Regions from separate parts of the Homo sapiens genome. Here region 2 is linked to region 1. Evidence: fine-mapped expression QTL. A gene starts in region 1. The other region holds a variant in brackets. All regions are shown on one strand. Distances are between the middles of the regions. Region 1 holds the start of LINC03124 (long intergenic non-protein coding RNA 3124). Region 2 has its middle 100 kb from the start of LINC03124.

Region 1 (2,910 bases):
TGACTACTGGGTATATAACAAAATGAAGGCAGAAATAAAGATGTTCTTAGAAACCAATGAGAACAAAGACACAACATACCAGAATCTCTGAGACACATTTAAAGCAGTGTGTAGAGGGAAATTTATAGCACTAAATGCCCACAAGAGAAAGCAGGAAAGATCTAAAATTGACACCCTAACATCATAATGAAAAGAACTAGAGAAGCAACAGCAAACACATTCAAAAGCTAGCAGAAGGCAAGAAATAAGTAAGATCAGAGCAGAACTGAAGGAAATAGAGACACAAAAAACCCTTCAAAAAAATCAATGAATCCAGGAGCTGGTTTTTTGAAAAGATCAACAAAATTGATAGACCGCTAGCAAGACTCATAAAGAAGAAAAGAGAGAAGAATCAAATAGACGCAATAAAAAATGATAAAGGGGATATCACCACTGATCCCACAGAAATACAAGCTACCATCAGAGAATACTACAAACACCTCTACACAAGTACACTAGAAAATCTAGAAGGAAATGGATAAATTCCTGGACACATACACCCTCCCAAGACTAAACCAGGAAGAAGCTGAATCTCTGAATAGACCAATAACAGGCTCTGAAATTGAGGAAATAATTAATAGCCTCTCCCTGGGAATGGGCGGGCCTGGGTCCAGTCCACAGGGCCCCTCGTGGGCCCTGATGAAGGAAAGAGTTGAGATGGGGGCAGCGCTGGACCCCAGGGCCCCTGCCTGCCTCCTGGAGAGCCCGGTGACCCAGGCAGCCCTGGTGAGGCTGTGGGTGCCTGGGCCATAGCGAGGCCCGCGAGCTCCCACAGGACAGATGCGGACAGTGAGGCCGGGGAGGCCCTGCTGCCCTCCGAACTGTCCCTCCAGCCCCCAGCTTTCTGTGGTTCTCTGGGCCCCCTCTGCAGAGGGGCAGGGGAGCCCACCCTGGATCCTGAGACGCCAAGCTTGAGGGACCCCCAGAGCTCTAGCGAGGCTGCTTCCTTTGCGGATGGTGAAGCTGAGGTCCAGAGGAGGGCAGGGGCAGGTCCTGGGCGCTCCCTAGGCAAAGGGAGCCGATCTCCGGGAGGCGGTCACAGGGAGCGCTCCTGCGACTTCTAGGGCCCGAAAGCTGGGGAGGATGAGAGACCAGGGGCCTTTCGTCGTCCCCTGGGCTGGGCAGAGGCTCAGCCTGTGCCGCAACCCTAAGCGGCTTCTGGCAAGTCCGAGCCGCGGTCCCTTTAAGAGGGGGTGGAGCTTCAACCTGGCACTAGGGATGCTGCTAGCGTGCGTGTCCCTACGGAGCTGAGACTGCAGTTCCTGCGACGCCCCTGCAGCAGCAGCAGCGTGGTCAGAGCGAGCTTCTGAGCGGTGGTGGGTTCCATGTGATGGTGGAGTAGGAGACAGGTCTCCGCGGTCAGTGGCGGGGGCGTGGACCCCACCGGGAACCCTCCCTGCTCCTTCCCTGCCTCTCCCTGTTTTCGTGCCCGCACTTCTTCGTGGGCATCTGGGCCCGAGTCCTCCGCTTGGGGGCGGTTGTGCGGTCCTGGCTACTGCAGCGTCCGCACCCCGGCCGGGAAGGCTATGCCAATGTCCGACCCGCGTCCAGCGTATAGGAGCGCCCTGGCCCACAGCTGGCGGTAAAACGCGGGACCTGGGTCCCTCGGAGCCCCAGGGGCCTCTGAGCTGGAGTCTAGGATTATTTTTGATGCCTCAGCACCTTTAAAAAGAGACCTCGCTAGAGCAGGGGGCATCTGTATTTTCAGTTCTTTGAGGAGTCTCCAGCTATTTAGCTGTTTTCCATGGTGTGTATCCTAATTTTCATTTCCACCTACAGTGTATGAGTTTCCCTTTCTCCAAAACCACACCCGCATTCCTACTATTTTTGGTTTGGGGTTTGTTTTGTTTTTGTTTTTGTTTTGAGACGGAGTCTTGCTCTGTCTTACAGGCTGGAGTGCAGTGGCGCCATCTCGGCCGACTGCAACCGCTGCCTGGTTTTAAGCAAGTCTCCTGTCTCAGCCTCCAGAGTAGCTGGGACTACAGGCGCCGCCACCATGCCCAGCTCATTTTTGTATTTTTAGTAGAGATGGGGTTTCACGATATTGGTCAGGCTGGTCTCAAACTCCTGACCTCAGGTGACCCACCTGCCTCAGCCTCGCAAAGTGCAGAGATTACAGGCATGAGACACCGTTCCCAGCCCCTCCTATTTTTTTAAAAAAATCAAGGAATATTCGATAAGTGTGAGATTATCTGTGTGTGGTTTTGAATTACAGTTTTCTAATGAATAGTTGATTTTGAGGACCTTATCTCTTATTTGTTGTTCGATTTTATGGCTGTGCAGAATTGTCTGTTCAGGTTCTTTGCAAAATATTAGATTGGATGCTTTTGCTACTTTGTAGTGTTTTTTGTGTACATATTAGATGACAACTCCTCGTGAATTACAAGATTGCCTGAAATTTTTGCCTAATCTATAGGATGCTTTTTTAATTGGAAAGTAGTTTTCTTTGATGTGCAGAAACTTTTCATGTTGATGTAGTCAACATGATATTTATTTTTGCGTTTCATGCATGTAATTTTCGTCACCCATATAAGAAAATAATATGTCAGTGACAAAGCATTTAATTGTCAATGAGGTTTTTCTTCCAGGGTGTTTATTTTCCTCTTTGCAAAGGTGAGCAGAGATTCAAGTGACCCAAAATATATGCTCATCCTGTGTTTTAGTTAAAAACATTTTGTAGTTTATGGTCTTTTGTTTTGCCTTCAATTTGGGGGAGTGGGTGTTCATTTTCATACATCGTGTAAAATAAGGTCCTATTTCTCGCTTCTGCATCTGGATATCATTTTTGTCAAAGGTATTCATTCTCTGCCTTCCACATTGCAGTGTTCTTTATCAAAGTCAGTTGATTGTGTCCATATTTGTGTTGATCAT
Region 2 (2,910 bases), 100 kb after region 1:
CAAGAGGATGGTGCTAAACATGAGAAATCAGCCCTCATGACCCCATCACCTCCCACCAGACCCCACCTCCAACACTGGGAATTACAATTCAACATGAGACTTAAAGGGTACAACATCCAAACTATTTCATTCCATCCCTGGCCCTTCAAATCTCATGTTCTTCTCACATTGCAAGATACAATCATCCCTTCTCAATAGTCCCCCAAAAGTCTCAACCTGTTTCGGCATCACTCGAAAGTGCAGTTTCTTCTGAGACAAGGCAAGTCCCTTCCACTGATGCGCCTGTAAAATCAAAACAAGTTATTTACTTCTAAGATAAAATTTGGGTACAGGGCATTGGGTAAACCTTCCCATTATAAAAGAGAGAAATTGGCCAAAAGAAAGGGGCTACAGGCCCCACACAAGTTCAAATCCCAGCAAGGCAGTCATTAAATCTCGAAGTTCCAAAATAATCTCCTTTGAAACCATGTCCCACATCCTGGGAACATAGAGCATTCCCAGGATGCATAGGGTGGGCTCCCAAGGCCTTGGGCAGCTCTGCTCCCACAGCTTTTCTACACTGAAGACATGAGCTGCTGGTGGCTCTATCATTCTGGGATCTGGAGGGCAGCAGCCCCCCTCCCACAGCTCCACTAGGCAGCCCCCCCGAGTCAGGACCCCGTGTGGGGCCTCCAACCCCACATTTCCACTTGGCACTGTCCTAGAAGAGGTCCTCTTTGAGGGCTCCAGCTGGGCATAGGCTTCTTCCTGGGCATCCAGCCTTTCTCATACATCCTCTGAAATTTAGGCAGAGAATGCCAAGCCTCCTTCACTCTTGCACTTTGCTCACCTGCAGGCTTAACACCACATGGAAGCCACCAAGGCTTATAGTTAGCACCCTCTGAAGCCATGGCCTGAGCTCTATCTGGAGCCCTTTGAACCAAGGCTGGCGCTAGAAGGGCCAGGATGCAAGGAACACCCTCCTGGGGGTGGTACAGGGCAGTGGTGCCCTGGCCCTGGTCCAAGTGGAACAGGAATTAAAAGAAATTAAAGAATGTGTAAGCAGAAACTCAGTTGTATGTAAGAAAACCCAATTCCCCCTGAGAAAGAGAAAGAGCTGGAGCCCTTTAAAAATTAACTGCCGGTTTTTCTGTGGCTAGTGAGCCTCATCTCTCCTCCTTTCCCAGGCATTGTGAAGACCCTGTTCCTCTAGCTGCGCAGCTGCAAGGTCACTAGACAGATAAACTCAAGTCGTAAAACATGTTTTTCCTTGAAAAGTAAGAAATGATATAATGCATGTCTCAATTAATTGAATAACTGTCTTTGTTTCTCGCTTCTGTAATACGCTTCCCCCTGGACAGATCTCCCCACTCCCCACCACCCTACAAAACGCTTAAAAGGTAACTTAAGTCTTTGATCAGGACTCAGTCCTTTGGATGTTAATCTGACTGGGCCGGTGCAACTAAATAATAAATATCCTCCTCAACCCCATTGGTCTCTGATTCCTTAAAAAATCCCACTGCAGCCTGGGCATGGTGGCTCACGCCTGTAATCCCAGCACTTTGGGAAGCCGAGGTGGGCAGATCATGAGGTCAGGAGATTGAGACCATCCTGGCTAAGACAGTGAAAACCCGTCTCTACTAAAAATACAAAAAATTAGCCAGGCATGGTGGCAGGTGCCTGTAGTCCCAACTACTTGGGAGGCTGAGGCAGGAGAATGGCTTGAACCC[G/A]GGAGGCAGAGCTTGCAGTGAGCTGAGATTGTGCCGCTGCACTCCAGCCTGGGTGACAGAATGAGACTCCATCTCAAAATAAATAAATAAATTAATTAACTTATAAATTCCCACTACACAAGAAACCATTCTTTCATCCTAGACCTCTAGGTCTGTGCTGGGATGAGCTGCTGCAACGCTTTCTGAAATGCCTTCAAGGCCTTTTTTAATTGTCTTGGCTATCAGCACCTAGCTTTTTCTCAGTTACGCAAATGTCTCTAATAAGTGGTTGCTCCACAGCCTGCTTAGATTCTTCCCCTGAAAATGCTTTATCTTCCTCTGCCAAATGGGCAGGCTGCACATTTTCTATACTTGTATGGTCTGCTTTTCCCATTTAATTGTAAATTCCAACTTTAAGTCATTTTTTGCTCCTGCATCTGAGTGTTCAAACTTCCTCAGATCCCTAGTACATGAACAGACTGCAGCCAAGTTCTTTGCAAAGGCATAACAGGCATGACCTTTATTTGAAGTCCCAGTAAGTTCCTCATTTCCATCTGAGACCACATCAGCCTATCCTTCACTGTCCATATCACTATCAGCATTTTGGTCACAACCATTTAACTAGTCTCTAAGACATTCAGAACTTTCCTTCATCTTCCTGTATTCTGAGCCTTACAAACTCTTCCAACTCCTGCCCATTGCCTAGTTCCAAAGTCACTTCCACATTTTCAAGTATCTTTATAGCAATGCCCCATGTCTCAGAACCAATTTTCTGTATTAGGCCATTCTTGCATTGCTATAAAGAAATACCTGAGACTGGGAAATATATAAAGAAAAGAGGTTTGAAAAGAAGTTTGTATAGCTGCAGGCTGTACAAGCATGGTTCTGGCATCTGCCTAGCTTCTGGTGAGGCCTCAGGAGGCTTTTATTCATGGCAGAAGATGAAGAAGGAGCAGGCAGGCACATCACCTGGCAAGGCAGGGGAAGCACCACACACTTTTAAACAAATAGATCTTGCAAGAATTCACTCACTATCACAAGGACAGCACCAGGGAGATGATGCTAGACCATTCCTGAGAAATCCACCCCCATGATCCAATCACCTCCCTCCAGACCTACCACCAACATTGGGGATATCACAATGCAACATGAGATTTAGAGGGAACAACATCTGAGGTATCTCATGCCTCATGTTGTGACTTGGTATAATTTCCATAAGATT

The links. PIP is the estimated chance that this variant, and not a neighbour inherited with it, causes the effect. A credible set is the group of variants that fine-mapping cannot tell apart.
Region 2: its variant is the best candidate, but not a certain one, in a credible set for the expression of LINC03124 in whole blood (INTERVAL, PIP 0.87).

Annotation. Positions count from the first base shown.
Region 1 is chr2:131,681,203-131,684,112 of GRCh38, forward strand. It overlaps LINC03124 (long intergenic non-protein coding RNA 3124), which reads left to right and starts at 1,297. Exons shown (of 10, transcript NR_167889.1): 1 at 1,297-1,786. RefSeq lists an enhancer at 730-849 and a silencer at 1,220-1,269.
Region 2 is chr2:131,784,895-131,787,804 of GRCh38, forward strand. No RefSeq gene overlaps it. Among named protein-coding and RNA genes, the nearest start is that of LINC03124, 100 kb to the left of the region's middle. The variant G/A (reference allele first, on the strand shown) is at 1,710.